2 separate regions of the Homo sapiens genome follow, and region 2 is linked to region 1. The links come from fine-mapping of genetic effects on gene expression. A gene starts in region 1. The other region holds a variant in brackets. All regions are shown on one strand. Distances are between the middles of the regions. Region 1 holds the start of RFX7 (regulatory factor X7). Region 2 overlaps RFX7 (regulatory factor X7).

Evidence for each region. PIP is the estimated chance that this variant, and not a neighbour inherited with it, causes the effect.
Region 2: its variant is fine-mapped to the expression of RFX7 in Th17 cells (Schmiedel 2018, PIP 0.95).

What each region holds. Positions count from the first base shown.
Region 1 is chr15:56,239,186-56,248,131 of GRCh38, forward strand. RFX7 (regulatory factor X7) reads right to left here and starts at 4,694. Exons shown (of 10, transcript NM_022841.7): 1 at 4,260-4,694; 2 at 3,940-4,102. The coding sequence starts at 4,100. It overlaps LOC124903569 (laforin-like), which reads right to left and starts at 5,633. Exons shown (of 3, transcript XM_047433428.1): 1 at 5,549-5,633; 2 at 4,798-4,994; 3 at 4,166-4,697. The coding sequence starts at 5,633. The coding sequence ends at 4,248. It also overlaps a transcript of TEX9 not described here. RefSeq lists silencers at 4,220-4,289, 4,380-4,439, 4,590-4,879, 5,370-5,419 and enhancers at 4,666-5,311, 5,312-5,957, 5,670-5,719, 5,958-6,603.
Region 2 is chr15:56,107,092-56,116,037 of GRCh38, forward strand. All of the region lies in intron 5 of RFX7 (regulatory factor X7), which reads right to left. Among named protein-coding and RNA genes, the nearest start is that of NEDD4, 120 kb to the left of the region's middle. The variant CAA/C (reference allele first, on the strand shown) is at 5,288.

The DNA.
Region 1 (8,946 bases):
CATCTTAGGGATGTAACCCAAGTCTAAACAAGAAATTCATTTATGTTTCATATACACCTTATACACATAACCTGAAGGTAATTTTTATACAATTTTTTTTTTAACGGAGTTTTGCTCTTGTTGCCCAGACTGGAGTGCAATGGTGCAATCTCGGCTCACAGCAACCTCCGCCTCCTGGGTTCAAGCGATTCTCCTGCCTCAGCCTCCCGAGTAGCCAGGATTACAGGTGGGCACCACCACCCTCGGCTAATTTTTTGTATTTTTAGTAGAGACGGGGTTTCACCATGGCCAGGCTGGTCTTGAACTCCTGACCTCAGGTGATCCGCCCGCCTCAGCCTCCCAGAGTGCTGGGATTACAGGTGTGAGCCACCGCGCCTGGCCTATACAATATTTTAAATAATTTTGTGTGTGATACAATGAAGTCAGGTGTGGAATTTTTCACTTGTGGCACTAAAAACGTTTGGGATTTTGGAGTGTTTCAGATTCTGGAGCATCTTGAATTCTGGGGGATTTTGGATTAGGGATGATCAACCTGTATCTATGTTACAGCCTCACTGCAAATATGTTATTCACTCCCACTCATGTAGGTATGATCTCAATTCACAAACAGGCAGAAACCATCTCAATCCTATTTTTTCCACAGCAATTTTATTCTATCAGGGTTTCAAGTAAAACTGCCTTAAAAAGGTAAATAAAAGGACTTAGTAAATGTGTTTACTGTTGCTTACACTAAAAAATTTTCACTAAACTACGAAGACACTGAGAGATAAGAGGAAGGGAAAACTTGCTTTGGTATTTCTTTTTTTTTTTTTTTTTTTTTTGAAGTAACCAAAGAGGGGTACAATTTAAGCTAAAAGAAGTTTGCAGTTAGGTTGGGTTGTGGCCTTGTTTTAGGTAAAAATACATGGGTTACTAGTTTTCTTTTTTTTTTTTTAACAACAAAAAGCTAATTTTGGAATTCTACTTTTTAGAAAATACAAATAACCTTACAGCATATTCAATACTAAAGCACATGCCTACTAAGAAATCTCCTTTCTAGTGAATAGTGTCAGTGATTTGGACCTTTTGTCTATGGAGTAAGAATGAGTAAGGGTAAGAAACATGCAAGCTTGTTAACCTAGAGTTAACTTGAAGGTATTCATAACCATATTATAGAAACATAACAACATTGTCAATTTTGTACTAACCTTATTTTCTATAATTACCTTTAAAATATATTTCCAACTCTTTTCCACTCAACTTTGAATGCTTTTTTTCCAGACTCATTTAATGCCTGATATTTCAATGCACATACTTTTATCAAACCATATTTCAGTTTAATAAACAGAGTAAATTATGAACTGATAACTTATTGTCCAAAGGCCTACATCACATACTATATTTATATTTGTAGAGTAGGAGGACAAGTACAGACTTGTTTGTGATATGCAAGCCCAGTAATTTAGAAACTATGATAAACCAAATGCAAAACCCATTTGATAATTTTTAAATGTCACATTTCTTTTGAGTGTAATTTTAAACTCTCATTAATAATGGCACCAAAGGATGATTCAGGAAGTAGTACAAAACTGATAGTCTCTCAGAATATTATCAGGTGATAAAATAATTTGTAAAATAATATTATTGTCTCAAAAATGTGAAATATCTAACTGCAATCATCTATTAAAAATGATTTAATACATATATACTATTTCTTAGGAATATATGGTAGTAAAGGAGTTTTCACTTTTGATATCTTTATTTTACATAGTCACTTGATGAATAATATAAATCCATTCTTGTGGAGCAGGGGGTATGACACTATTAAGTATATTTACTAATTTTGTTTATTATCTACAAATGTTGTTTATTCCGAAATTTTAAGTATATAAAAATCATTTTTGCAAATAGGATTTCTAAAGTTGATCATTAGATGCCAATAAGTGTATCATTACAATTTTAAAACAAAAATATAAATTTTCATATTTTGGGATTCACGTGTTTGCTGCCCATTATTTTTTCAGAGCAAGTACCAAAAACTGGAGTGCACTCTACTTCAGAAGTTTTTCTCATGTTAAAGTCAGAGCAGTTAGGCTGTAATGGATGTGCCAATATAAAAAAAAATTAAATTTACACATTATTTGCCAAAAAGTGCACTCGACTATCATCATTATTCAAACATTTCAGTCAGTTGCCTCCACAACTCACTTATTTTAAAACTATAAAGTGAAGATTCCTTTCCCCTCTTGTTCTCATAATCAATTAAAATATACATTACTCATTCAACTTTTAAAATTTGTCTCTCTTAAAAGATTTTAGTCCATTAACTTGGATTTCCCACATCTGAATGTAAAACCAAGGTGCTTAATTCAATTTAATGATGATTTCAGAAACACAAAGTTACGTCACGTTACTAGAGGTTAAAAACACACACACATACACACTGGTTTTGTGAAAACCTTGATGGCAAGCAAGATATTCACCATCTCTTCTTTTAAATTATAGCTTTAAAAAGGGGGTGAGGGTATCCATTGAAGAATAAAGCCTGCTTTCTGTCACACACACACACACACACCCCAATCATATCTATCAGACCTATTCAAGTTGCCACAACATGACTATTGTCAAAGCCAAAAAAATTCTCCTTTAAAATATTTAAACTTCATTTTAAAATTAAAACTGAAAGCAAGATACTCAACTGCCAACTACTGTTGATGAAACTATTAAAGCCTGCACTGACCTACTTCATATCAGCATCATGACGGCATGGATGCATGCCAAGAAAATAATGAAAATTACTATATAACTAACCTAAATCTTGTATTTAAAAATTGTCACTTTAAAAATGTGCAAATACTGTTCATGCAACGCCAGTTGCTTTACGATATGTTTTCAAAATGAGAAAATGAGTTTTGATATTTTAGTACTCATATTCAATGATGGCCCTGCAAAGATTTCATTTCCATTTTCAAAATCAAGGCTTTTTAAAATACCATATAAAATTCTTTTTAAACTTCTATTAAAAGCAATCTTAGACCAAATTCCAAATATTACTTTCCATTTAAAAAATATTGCTACACTTAAAAAAGGCAGTTAATGAAGCATCCTACAAAACAATGCAAGTTCATGTTCAAAGAATATTGCAATGGCTCTAACAGTGGATGGACTTAGTGTATTTAATTATTAAAAGATTCCCACTAGACTTTAGGAGTTTAATGCTGAAATATTGGAAATTTTCATACAAGAAAGTAAAATAGCGAAAGATATTCCATCAATGGTTTCTTTTAAAAAGACATACAAATGGCAAGACATTTGATTCCCTATATTTTAATTTAAAAAAAAACCACTTTGTTGTAAACTACCATCTTAAAATATTTTATACTAAAAAAGCACTTTCTTCACAATCAATGCAAAGAATAAACTCCCTGAAAAAGAAATTTAATATTAGGATAAGGGAGGCAAAAACATTCAGAAATAGCAGCTAACCCAACTGAAAGGAAGAGACACATTAGGTTTTGTGCTGCATATTAATATTCTTACGCACAGTATCTGTTTGGTGAAAATTCACAATACACTTCTTCCTCCTTCTATGGCTGCAAAAAGGAGTAAACACATTTCACATTCTCCAGTTCCAAATTCATGCCACCATCATGCAATATGACTTAATTTCGACCCATATTTCTGTTACAATGAGTGAAAAAATAAAACCAAAAAACTTGTTTATCTGCACTCACAATTGAGGAAGGGGTAAAAGCATTTTTTAGCTAAGAAGACAGGGGCTGATTGATGCAAAGTCCGCACACCTCCAGAGATCCTACAAATGTGCACCCGACTGGGGAAAGCCACATTCAATGAATGCATCAGCCTCCTCCTCCGCTCCCCCCGCCCGCCGCCCCCCACCCACTTTGCAGCAGAAATGTGCCTGGGCTTTTTCACGCGAGCGATGGAGGATCCTCTTACCAGATGGAGTTCTTGATCTTGTGTTGCAGCGCGCTGGCCTCTGTCCCTGGCAGCCCGGGCACAAGGGCTGGCAGGGCCACCCCCGAGTTGGGGGCGCTGGGGGGAAGCTGCTGATGGGCATCAGGCTGCTGTGGTGGCGGCTGTTGTTGTTCCTCTGCCATCGCTGCAGAGGGGTGGGAGGGAGGGAGGGAAAGATGGGGGCGCGGGGAAGGGTGAGGGAAGAGACCGGGAGGGGAGGACGAAGGGGGGAGAGGAGGAGGGGGAGGGGGAGGGGAAGAGGAGGAGGAGGAGGAAGGAAGCTGGATAAGCTAGGCCTTTACCCCAGGGCTCGAGTGAGTCGCTTTCGCCTGCCGCCTGGGGAACATCACCGGGGAGACCAGCGGCTCCTCACGGCCGGGGCGCTTCACCGCGGGAGAGGCATGGCGGCGCCCCTCAGCCCCCCGCTGGCGCCGCCGCCTCCTCCCGTCAGCGGCCGGGGCTGTGGGGGGGTGAGATGGGGGCGTTTGAAGACGAAGTGGGGGGGGCAGGCTCCCCCCAAAATCCAAGAAGAACGGTTGCTCAGGGATTTGGCGGCCAAGCCTTCCTTCCTTGTCCCCGGGGCTTTCTACTGCCGGGTCCCCGTGCTGCTGCAGCCCCAGGCACCGCTCCACGCCACTCCCCACGCCGCCGCCGCCGCCGCCGCTCGCTCCCGGCCCCGCCGCCGCCGCGGCCGCCGCTGCCCTGCCAGCCCCGGAGGCAGCCCAGTGCGCGCAGCCGCACTGCGGCCCGGCGCAGACCGCACAACACCTACCGCTCCGCCGGGGGGCGTGGACCAGGGTGTGCGGGCCGCGGGCGCGACGGGCCGGGATGGGGGCGCACGGCGCGGAGGGCGGCGCGGGCCAGCGGGCCAGGGAAGCGCGCCGCTGGGGGCCGGGAGGAGTCCGGCCCGGCTGGTGGAGAGCAGGAAAACGTGGGGGAGGTGCTGGCGAGAGAAAGAGAACTTGCGTGAGGAGGAGGAGGAGAAACCAAATTTAATAATATTTGGCGTGGAAATGGGATTTGGGCGGGGGAGGCATCTTCAAAGCAAGTAAAGAGAAATCAACATTATCCCCCTTCCCCTGCACATGCATGTGAGGATTACTTCCTCCCTGAGTAAATGAAGAGAACTGAAGCAGGTAAGACGATAAACTGACTTTTCAGAAGCCCCCAAAGAAGAACACCCGTTGGAATTAACCACCCTTTAGGTAATTCGGTCTTGAACGGAAATCGCGAGTCAGGAGCTGGGTTGAGTGCTCCTCGGTCGGGCATTCAAAGCCCTCCAAATCTGGCCCCACTTTAACTATCCAATCATAGCGGCCTCCATCCCCCTGCAAGAACTCCCGGCTCCAATCAGGGAAGTCTCCATGCCATCCTCAACGCGCAGCAGATTCATTCTTCCTTCGTGCCTTTGCTCATGCTGTTCCCCTCCACCTCCCCACCCCACCCCACCCCCTTTCCAGGAATGCCCTCCCTCCTTTATACCGCTCCCAATTCCACCCAGGCTCTAAAGCATAGCTCAAGTCGCGGCTTGTCAGGGTCCCTGCAGCCAAGGCCACTGCCTGCCTCTGAAAGAAACGCATGTAGTACTCACAACATGGAGGCTCAGGCGTCAGCCACGAGCTCCTTCCTTTGGAGCCCGTTGAACACCCGCCCTCCCCCCGCAGACTCCGCACCATTCCCCCCCTTCCCATTCATACCTAAATGATAGCTTTGCCACAAATAAGTCAGTCTCCTTTAAGAGCAGAAGAATTGGCTTTTCTAGGTGGGGCTGATCAGGGAGGCTGCGTGGATGTAGAATACAACAGCCAAGGCCTCTGGCACCAAATGGAACAGCTGTTCAGCTCACACTGACCTTTCTTTGGGCCCGTGGGTGTTATGAGCCCTTCAGCTTTAACTTTTCTGATAGAGTGTCTATCAGGTTTCTACCTGTTAGATCCTCTGGCCACTTTCCTGCTGTGTGTGGACTTTGGGCTGTGGGGCTCTGCCACCTTTTAGACTCCTAGTGGATGGTGAATCTGATTGGCTTGGGTTGCCTGGCCTTTGAGTTCTCAGTTCCCTGCCTTGGCCTGAAACCCTCTTGCTTTTGTCCACTGTGCCCTCTCTCCTGGCCCACAGACTTAAGGCCCAGACTCACACTGAATGCTTGCACGTGGTGAGGGTTGAGGGTGGGGGTGCAGGGAGGAAGAACACCTGTGTGCAAAATAAGCCGCCCCCCCGCCCCCGGGGCCTCTTGGATTACGCTGTGCTCCAACTACCCATTGCACGAGTTGCATCACACAAATGAGCCCCCTTTTCCATACTCTAAGGTCTCTATTAGCTTAGCCACTTTAGGAAACTATAGGTGGTTTACGACATTCATTTTGCATACATATCTTCATGTGGGTGTGTAAAGACAGTATTTTTGTGGACCTAATTGATAGACATGGTGTGCACTAGACAGAAGCTTTGAAGGATAAAAATAGCTAATGTTTGTTGAACACTTTGTGTGCCAGACTAGCACTTTCCATACATTATCATAGTTATTCCTCCCCAAGAGTGTATAATGTAGGTATTATTAGTCTCCCTCTGTTACAGATGAAATGGAAGCTTAGGTTAATTAACATTCTTAAAATTACCCAATTAGTAAATGCAGGAGCCAAAATTTGAGTCCTGGAAGTTTAATTCCAGAGCCTGCAAGCTATGCTGAAACTGGAATTACGCTGAAAAATCTTGAATGTAGGTATATATATACGTGTGTGTGTGTATGCCCTATATCACGTTGAGGAAAGTTGCCAAGTTCCCCAAGGTTCTAATTTTTTGCCTTGCCAAGAGAGAATGATGGCTCCAAGTTGCAACACCCTGGGAGGGGGAGATCCTTAGGAAGTGGGAGAGTCATCGAGGGGGTAACGTATCTAAGGTCTGCCAAAGGCCTTAAGAAAAGGAAGCCGAGAACCAAGACGTTTTATAAAAAGTTCGCTACCGGGTGTCACACAGGCTGGCTTCCCAAGTGCAACTTCTGAGAGTTTTTAATGGGTTCCATAAAAGAGCCAGGTCACCCCAGCAGCCACTAGAGGGCTCACGAAGCTGCAGCCGCGGGCTGCCCTCTAGCGGCGGTGCTGACCGGAGTGTGGTGGTAAACCTTTTCCGGCCTTCCAGGACCTACAGGGAGTTGAAGGAGACCAGCAATGGGAGGGGTGGCAGAGAGTATCAGACTGAGGAGACCTTATTGCCAGAGTGAGATACCCTTTCAGGGAGGAAAGGGGCAGCCCTCACTACTCACTTAACATCTGGGAGTACAGTGGGTGTTTTGTTCCAGTCTTCAGAGAAGACTGTGAATAAAATCATGACATTAAGAAATCTGATGAAGTTACCCAAAATTTTGAGTGTGGACTCAAGCCAAACCCAGGGACCCTGAATAAAGGCAGGAGTGTAGCCATGTGCTTCTCATATTATGTGGGTTCCTTTGATTGTGCAACCCTGTACTGAGGACCCTCAAGGACCCAGAATCAATGTGGCTCATTTTCTCTGAGCATCATTTTGACTCTCTGGTAAATAAGGTAAGACATTGTAGTAAGCATGACTTTTTAAGATAACACACAAGTATTACCCAACCCTGAGGAGCCTAAGTTTATTCTCTACTGGGAAAGTGTACACCAGAGGAAAATTTTGAGGAACACTGATGTAGTGGGTTAGAAAAACCTGGCCTTGGAGTCAGAAGACCTGGGAATTCAAACCCTCTGTTTCGATCTCTATAAAAATGAAAATAATGATGTACATCAGAGGGTTGCTATAAGGAAAACATGAAAAGTTATAGGTAAACCAGGGAAGTGTTGTCCACATTTAGAGAGTATCTACAAGATGGATTGTCAGCACCTCAAAGGAAATGACTATTTTATTTATCCTAGTAGTCCCAGGACATAATTCCTGACTCCTGACTATTTAATAAATATTTGTGGAATTTAGTAGTTAACTAACCCTCATTTTCCTAGCCCAATCCATTATATTGTCTTGCTCTCTTGTGTCTGTAAACCTTGTCTCCTTTATGAAACTGTAAACATTTTATACTGTCCAGACTGTAGTATATACATTTATCATGCCTGATATATAGCAGTATTGGGCACGGAAAATATGAATAAATAAGACCTGGCCCCAACTTGAAGTAGTTTACATTTTTGTGAAGTAGAGCAACATATTAACATATATAAGATGATGAGTTATAAACATATCCACTAGTGTTGTGGAGTCATAATGGAGGGAGGGATTGGTCTTGCTCAGGGTAGAAGAACTGGAGAAGGCATCATGGCTGGCATTTTAATTGGGTCTTGTTGGATGAATAGGAGTTGAGTAGGCAGAGCAACAGAGGGAAGATGATTTCAGATAAAGGGAGTAACATGAGCACTGGTGTGAAGCCATGAAAGGGTACTGTTTGCTGAAGGAATAATGCATAGCACGGTGTTGACTCTGTGATCAGATCCTAAAGTAGTATAGGCGAGGGAAAAGAAGGAGAGAGAGACAAAAACCCACTTTACAAAATGTTACTTTGCATTATAGTTAGGATCGTTCTATCAAAGGAAGGCCTGAAAGTCGGTTTCATTATTGGTACATACTGATTAAGTGCTGAAAGTATACATTTCACTTCCACAAAGTATGGTGGTTTACCAGATATGGAAAAGGTAAAGTTCTACCCTGTTCTCCTTCTTTCCCAACTTGAATATAAAAATAAAATACTCCTCTCATCCTCTTTTCCCCTGATCATTACTTCCTCTGTCTTTTTCCATTGCAAGCTTTCTCCTCTAGAAGCTGAAAGTAGAGTTTAATGACCTACATGTTATTTAAGAGAACAAGGAAAGAAGGCTTTTCACCTCTCCCAATTCTTCCTTGATAGCAGAAAGTGATGGATAATTTCTTTCAGCTAAGCTGTTGTCTTTCAAAGTGCAAGTAGTCCTAGGAGGGCTTATATATATATAAGTTTCAATGCTGTAATGTGATTGAGCTTTCTTTCAGTCTTTA
Region 2 (8,946 bases), 130 kb before region 1:
TCGAGACCATCCTGGCTAACACGGTGAAACCCTGCCTCTACTAAAAATACAAAAAATTAGCTGGGCGTGGTGGCAGGCGCCTGTAGTCCCAGTTACTCGGGAGGCTGAGGCAGGAGAATGGCGTGAACCCAGGAGGCGGAGCTTGCAGTGGGCCGAGATCGCGCCACTGCACTCCAGCCTGGGCAGTAGAGCAAGACTCCGTCTCAAAAAAAAAAAAAAAAAAAAAAAAAAGAAGAAAGAATTGTTTTTTTTTTTCTCTTGCTCCTTGTTTAAAAGTACATTTTTAAGCCTGAAATTAAGCCTAATATTCAATATGACTATGAACACATCACTCAAAATCCATGGTAACAATTCAGTCTTTAATATTCATTCATGTCACAAATTTAATTGTACAAGTTAAAGGTAAACATTGTTTAATGGTACAAAAATATAAACAATGAATCACAAAAGACTTGTGGTAAAATATAGTCATGGGATACCTAACCATACCTGACATTTTTTGAGTGCTTTCTTTGTGTTAAATCATTTAATCCTCTCAACAACCTTAAGACAGGTAGTTTTATTAAACATATTTTATAGATGAGGAACTTGCACAGAGAGGTGCACTAATCCCTTTATTTAACAGATGAGGTATTTTTATTGCTAATTGATAACTATAAGCATACTGAATGAATAAAGAAGAATCAAATAGCAATAAAAAATGATGCAGGCGATATCGCCACTGATCCCACAGATAAAACAATAAAAAATGATAATAAACCAATAAAAAATGATACAGGGGATATCGCCACTGATCCCACAGAAATACAACTACCATCAGAGAATACTATAAACACCTCTACGCAAATAAACTAGAAAATCTAGAAGAAATGGAAAAATTCCTGGACACATACACCCTCCCAAGACTAAACCAGGAAGAAGTTGAATTTTTGAATAGACCAATAACACGTTCTGAAATTGAGGCAGTAATAAATAGCCTACCAACCAAAAAAAGCCCAGGACCAGATGGACTCAAAGCCAAATTCTACCAGAGGTACAAAGAGGAGCTGGTACCATTCCTTCTGAAACTATCCCAAATAATTGAAAAGGAAGGACTCCTCCCTAACTCATTTTATGAGGCCAGCATCATCCTGATACCAAATCCTGGCAGAGACACAACAAAAAACTTCAGGCCAGTATCCCTGACGAACATCAATGCAAAAATCCTCAATAAAATACTGGCAAACTGAATCCAGCAGCATATCAAAAAGCTTATCCACCACCATCAAGTCAGCTTCATCCCTGGGAAGCAAGGTTGGTTCAACATATGTAAATCAATAAATGTCATCCATCACATAAACAGAACCAATGACAAAAACCACATGATTCTCTCAATAAATGCAGAAAAGGCCTTCGAAAAAATGCAATATCCCTTTATGTTAGAAACTCTCAATAAACTAGGTATTGATGGAACATATCTCAAAATAATAAGAGTTATTTATGACAAACACAGCCAATATCATACTGAATGGGCAAAAGCTGGAAGCATTCCTTTTGAAAACCGGCACAAGACAAGAATGTACTCTTACCACTCCTATTCAACATAGTACTGGAAGTTCTGGCCAGGGCAATCAGGCAAGAGAAAGAAAGAAAGGATATTTAAATAGGAAGAGACAAAGTCAAACTGTCTCTGTCTGTAGACAACATGATCCTATATTTAGAAAACCCTATTGTCTCAGCCCAAAAACTCTTTAAACTGATAAGCAACTTCAGCAAAGTCTCAGAATACAAAATCTATATGCAAAAATCACAAGCATTCCTATACATCAATAGACAAGCAGAGAGCCAAATCATGAATGAACTCCCAATCACAACTGCTACAGAGAATAAAATACCTAGCAATACAGCTAACAAGGGAAGTGAAGGACCTCTTCAAGAACTACAAACCTTCTCCCTCTCCCTCTCCCTCTCCCACTCCCTCTGCCTCTCCCTCTCCCTCTTTCCACGGTCTCCCTCTGATGCCGAGCCGAAGCTGGACTGTACTGCTGCCATCTCGGCTCACTGCAACCTCCCTGCCTGATTCTCCTGCCTCAGCCTGCCGAGTGCCTGCGATTGCAGGCGCGCGCCGCCACGCCTGACTGGTTTTCGTATTTTTTGGGTGGAGACGGGGTTTCGCTGTGTTGGCCAGGCTGGTCTCCAGCTCCTAACCGCGAGTGATCCGCCAGCCTCGGCCTCCCGAGGTGCCGGGATTGCAGACGGAGTCTCCTTCACTCAGTGCTCATTGGTGCCCAGGCTGGAGTGCAGTGGCGTGATCTCGGCTCGCTACAACATCCACCTCCCAGCAGCCTGCCTTGGCCTCCCAAAGTGCCGAGATTGCAGCCTCTGCCTGGCCGCCACCCGGTCTGGGAGGTGAGGAGCGTCTCTGCCTGGCCGCCCATCGTCTGGGATGTGAGGAGCCCCTCTGCCTGGCTGCCCAGTCTGGAAAGTGAGGAGCGTCTCTGCCCAGCCGCCATCCCATCTAGGAAGTGAGGAGCGCCTCTTCCCTGCCGCCATCCCATCTAGGAAGTGAGGAGCGTCTCTGTCCGGCCGCCCATCGTCTGAGATGCGGGGAGCGCCTCTGCCCTGTCGCCCCGTCCGGGATGTGAGGAGCGTCTCTGCCCGGCCGCCCCGTCTGAGAAGTGAGGAGACCCTCTGCCTGGCAACCGCCCTGTCTGAGAAGTGAGGAGCCCCTCCGCCCAGCAGCCGCCCTGTCTGAGAAGTGAGGAGCCCCTCCGCCCGGCAGCCACCCCGTCTGGGAAGTGAGGAGTGTCTCCGCCCGGCAGCCACCCCGTCCGGGAGGGAGATGGGGGGGTCAGACCCTCGCCTGGCCAGCCGCCCCATCCGGGAGGGAGGTGGGGGGATCAGCCCCCTGCCCGGCCAGCCGCCCCGTCCGGGAGGCGAGGGGCGCCTCTGCCCGGCCGCCCCTACTGGAAAATGAGGAGCCCCTCTGCCCAGCCAGCCGCCCCGTCTGGGAGGGAGGTGGGGGGGTCAGCCCCCCGCCCGGCCAGCCGCCCAGTCCGGGAGGGAGGTGGGGGGGTCAGCCCCCCGCCTGGCCAGCCGCCCCGTCCAGGAGGTGAGGGGAGCCTCTGCCTGGCCGCCCCTACTGGGAAGTGAGGAGCCCCTCTGCCCGGCCAGCCGCCCCGTCCGGGAGGGAGGTGGGGGGGGGTCAGCCCCCCGCCTGGCCAGCCGCCCCGTCCGGGAGGGAGGTGGGGGGGGGGTCAGCCCCCCGCCTGGCCAGCCGCCTCGTCCGGGAGGGAGGTGGGGGGGGTCAGCCCCCCGCCCGGCCAGCCGCCCCGTCCGGGGGAGGGGGGGTCAGCCCCCCGCCCGGCCAGCCGCCCCATCCGGGAGGCGAGGGGAGCCTCTGCCCTGCCGCCCCTACTGGGAAGTGAGGAGCCCCTCTGCCCGGCCAGCTGCCCCGTCCGGGAGGGAGGTGGGGGGGGTCAGCCCCCCGCCCGGCCAGCCACCCCGTCTGGGAGGGAGGTGGGGGGGTCAGCCCCCCACCCGGCCAGCCACCCTGTCCGGGAGGTGAGGGGCGCCTCTGCCCGGCCGCCCCTACTGGGAAGTGAGGAGCCCCTCTGCCCGGCCAGCCGCCCCGTCCGGGAGGGAGGTGGGGGGGGTCAGCCCCCCGCCCGGCCAGCCACCCCGTCTGGGAGGGAGGTGGGGGGGTCAGCCCCCCACCCGGCCAGCCACCCTGTCCGGGAGGTGAGGGGCGCCTCTGCCCTGCCGCCCCTACTGGGAAGTGAGGAGCCCCTCTGCCCGGCCAGCTGCCCCGTCCGGGAGGTGAGGGGAGCCTCTGCCCTGCCGCCCCTACTGGGAAGTGAGGAGCCCCTCTGCCCGGCCAGCTGCCCCGTCCGGGAGGGAGGTGGGGGGGGTCAGCCCCCCGCCCGGCCAGCCACCCCGTCTGGGAGGGAGGTGGGGGGGTCAGCCCCCCACCCGGCCAGCCACCCTGTCCGGGAGGTGAGGGGCGCCTCTGCCCGGCCGCCCCTACTGGGAAGTGAGGAGCCCCTCTGCCCGGCCACCACCCCGTCTGGGAGGTTTACCCAACAGCTCATTGAGAACGGGCCAGGATGACAATGGCGGTTTTGTGGAATAGAAAGGGGGGAAAGGTGGGGAAAAGATTGAGAAATCGGATGGTTGCCGTGTCTGTGTAGAAAGAGGTAGACATGGGAGACTTTTCATTTTGTTCTGTACTAAGAAAAATTCTTCTTCCTTGGGATCCTGTTGATCTGTGACCTTACCCCCAACCCGGTGCTCTCTGAAACATGTGCTGTGTCCACTCAGGGTTAAATGGATTAAGGGCGGTGCAAGATGTGCTTTGTTAAACAGACGCTTGAAGGCAGCATGCTCGTTAAGAGTCATCACCACTCCCTAATCTCAAGTACCCAGGGACACAAACACTGAGGAAGGCCGCAGGGTCCTCTGCCTAGGAAAACCAGAGACCTTTGTTCACTTGTTTATCTGCTGACCTTCCCTCCACTATTGTCCTGTGACCCTGCCAAATCCCCCTCTGCGAGAAACACCCAAGAATGATCAATAAAAAAATAAATAAACCAAAAAAAAAAAAAAAAAAACCAAAAAAACAATACCAGGGCATAGGCCCCACCCTAAAACCATTAAATCAGAATCAGAATCAGAAATTCTGAGGGCAAAAACCTGGATCCAGACAAGTGTATCTAAAAGTTCTCCAGGTATTTCTCATGTGCAACCAGGATTAAGAATCACTAATGCCAGGTGCAGTGGCTCATCCCTGTAGTCCCAGCACTTTGGGAGGCCGAGGCGGGTGGATCACGAGGTCAGGAGGTCGAGACCAGCCTGGCCAATATTGTGAAACCCTGTCTCTACTAAAAATACAAAAACTAGCCGGGCGTGGTGGTGTGTGCCTATAGTCCCAGCTACTCGGGAGGCTGAGGCAGGAGAATCACTTGAACCCAGGAGGCGGAGGTTGCAGTGAGCTGAGATTTCGCCACTGCACTCCAGGCTGGGCAATAGAGGGACACTTTGCCCCAGAAAAAAAAAAAAAAAAAGAATCACTAACCTGGTTCAGCCTTTTCATTTGGCAGATGAGAAAACTGAGGACTCAGAAATTAAATAACTTGCCTAAGATGGTAGAGCTCTCTTCAAACAGGTAACTGTAACATAGACTGGCTATGCACTAGTACGGTATTTTTCAAAATTAAAGTAATGCTTCATTAGTAAATTGTAAAAATAAATTTAGTGCATCCTGACCAGAATTTATTTGGAACAGAATAAAAAATATCAGAGTACAAAT[CAA/C]AAAAAAAAAAAAAAAAAAAAAGAACTACAAACCTATTTAAGAAATCGTACTGGGAAAACTCGCTAGCCATATGCAGAAAACTGAAACTGGACCCCTTTCTTACACCTTATACACAAATTTACTCAAGATGGATTAAAGACTTAAATGTAAAACCCAAAACCATAAAAATCCTAGAAGAAAATCTAGGCAATACCATTCAGGACATAGGCATGGGAGAAGATTTTATGAAGAAATCGCCACAAGCAATTCCAACAAAAGCTAAAACTGACAACTGGGATCTAGTTAAACTAAAGAGCTGCACAGCAAAAGAAACTATCATCAGAGCGAACAGACAACCAACCTATAGAATGAGAGAAAATTTTTGCAATTTACCTATGGACAAAGGTCTAAGATCCAGAATTTACATGGGACTTAAATTTACCAGATAAAAACAAACAACCCCATCAAAAAGTGGGCAAAGGACATAAACAGACACTTCTCAAAAGAAGGTATTTATGCAACCAACAAAAATATGAAAAAAATCTCAACTTCACTGATCATTAGAGAAATGCAAATCAAAACCACAAAGAGATACCATCTCATGCCGGTCAGAATGGCGATTATTAAAAAGTCAAGAAACAACACATGTTGGCAAGGATGTGGAGAAATAGGAACACTTTTACACTGTTGGTGGGAATGTAAATTAGTTCAACCATTGTGGAAGACAGTGTGGAGCTTCCTCAAGGATCTAGAACTAGAAATACCATTTGACTCAGCAATTCCATTACTGGGTATATACCCAAAGGAATATAAATCATTCTATTATAAAGACACATGCAAATGTATGTTTACTGCAGCACTATTCACAATAGCAAAAACATAGAACCAACCAAAATGCCCATCAATGATAGACTGGATAAAGAAAATGTACATATACACCATGGAATACTATGCAGCCATTAAAAGGAATGAGATCATGTCCTTTGCAGGGACATGGATCAAGCTGGAAGCCATCATCCTCAGCAAACTAATGCAGGAACAGAAAACCAAACACTGCATGTTCTTACTCGTAAGTGGGAGCTGAACAATGAGAACACATGGACACAGGGAGGGGACCAACACACATCATGGCCTGTTGCGGGGGCGGTGAGGGGAGGAAAGAGCATTAGGACAAATAGCTAATGCATGAGGGGCTTAATACCTAGGTGACAGGTTGGTAGGTGCAGCAAACCACCATGGCACATGTTTACCTATGTAACAAACCTGCACATTCTGCACATGTATCCCGGAATGTAGAGTAAAATAAAATTAAAAAAAAAAAAAGTAAACTGAATGCTTGTATTGTAACCAAAATTACATCATTAAATTTTTTCCTAATATTTATAAAAATAATTAAGAATTATCAATTTTCCATTAAAAGGACTCTTAAGACTTACCTAGACCCATAATGTTATTTTAGTGAGTCTTAGTATTCAAATATTATAAATGACAATAAAGGATATGGGAATTTTGGGAGGTCCCAAAGACATGGTAGAATTACATTGCCTTAAAAGTATTAATCAAACAAAACATTTGCTAGACAATCTGAAAGACAAATGAAGTACAAGTAATATGGTCAAATATCTAATTAGCTTGAGCCTTAGAAAGTGGAAAAGTTGTTGTAATCCTCCCTTATTTTTAAGGAGTAAATAGATCTTAAGACTCTGGAGAGAAAACTCTTCAAAAGTGCCTGACCCTAACCATAAAGAAATTGGTCTTTTCCAGTTGAGTGTGGTGGCTCATGCCTGTATTCCTAGCGCTCTGGGAGGCCGAGGTGGGCGACTGCCTGAGCTCAGGAGTTCAGGACCAGCCTGGGCAACCTGGTGAAACCCTGTCTCTATTAAAAATACAGAAAAAAAAAATTAACTGGGCATGGTGGTGGGCGCCTGTAATCCCAGTTACTTGGGAGGCTGAGGCAGGAGAAATGCTTTAACCCGGGAGGTGGAGGTTGCAGTGATCAGAGATCACGCCACTGCACTCCAGCCTAGGCAACAGAGTGAGATTCTGTCTCCAAAAAAAAAAAAAAAACAAACAACAACAACAAAAAAACAACAGAAAAGGAAAAGAAAAAGAAAAAAGAAATTTATCGTTTTCGTATTGTTCTGTGTTTTGGGCAGAACAATGATATAGTATGTTGAACAATGATAGTAGTACTAGTAAGCTGATCTTAGACTAGGATCATACTAATATATCACCTTTGAAACTCATTGATAATGCTTTTTTTTGTGGTAACTACACAATGAACAATATATCTGAAAGATTACTTTGCTTGAAGTCAAAACTAAAGAAGAGTTAAATTATTTATATATAAAAAAACTATCATATATGACCCTCCTTAACCAGGACTTGCCTTTCCTTTCCATCATTTTGGCTAATAATCCTACAAAAAAGATTCAGTCATGGTGAATCATGATTCACAGGTTAAGAACCTTAACCTGAAGTTTATAAATTGCTAATAAAAAAAATCCCATAGTTTATGAAGTCATCTGATAAATCCTCAAGATTTTAAAAAGAAATTTGTGTCTTTACTTAATCACAGTAAAAAGTAAATCTTAAAGGCTTGAGTTCTCATGGCCTATGAAGAAGCCATTTAAAATGACTATTCTTTTTTTATTTTTATTTTATTTTTGAGACAGAGTCTCGCTCTGTTGCCCAGCCTTGAGTGCAATGGCGTGATTTCTGCTCACTGCAACCTCCACCTCTGGGTTCAAGCAATTCTCCTGCCTCAGCCTCCCGAGTAGCTGGGATTATAAGCGCCCACCACCATGCCCAGCTTAATTTTTTGTATTTTTACTAGAGACAGGGATTTGCCATGTTGGCCAGGCTGGTCTCGAACTCCTGACCTCAGGTGATCTGCCTGCCTCGGCCTCCCAAAGTGCTGGCATTACAGGGGTGAGCCGCTGGGATTACAGGGGTGAGCCTCTGTGCCCAGCTAAAATAACTATTCTTTTTTTATTGTATGATTCCATTTATATGAAATATCCACAGTACAGAAATCCATACAGACAGAAAGATTTATAGTTGACACGTGTGTGGTGGAAGGGGAAACTGGGGCTGTCTGCTTAGTGTATTCAGGCTTTTAAAAAATGACTATTCTTTTGGTGAATTTGGATTGTTATTTTTAAAGCAAAGACACACACACACATATGTGATAAATATATTGATCATACTCTACATATAGTATGAGCTCTCTTTGTATACATACTTTCATTTTTGGATTGCCTGAGGTCTCCGTTGTTTTAAATTAACTGCATATAGGCCCGGCACGGTGGCTCAGGCCTGTAATCCCAGCACTTTGGGAGGCTGAGGTGGGCAGATCATGAGATCAGGAGATTGAGACCATCCTGGCTAAGACGGTGAAATCCTGTCTCTACTAAAAATATAAAAAAACAATTAGCCGGGCGTGGTGGTGGGTGCCTGTAGTCTCAGCTACGTGGGAGGCTGTGGCAGGAGAATGGTGTGAACCTGGGAGGCAGAGCTTGCAGTGAGCCGAGATCGTGCCACTGCACTCCAGCCTGGGCCAACAGAGCGAGACTCCGTCTCAAAAAAAAAAAAAAAAATTTAACTGCATATAAAATGTCCAGATTTATGATTATCGACAGTAACTACCTATAGATTAAGAATTAACAAACATTGAA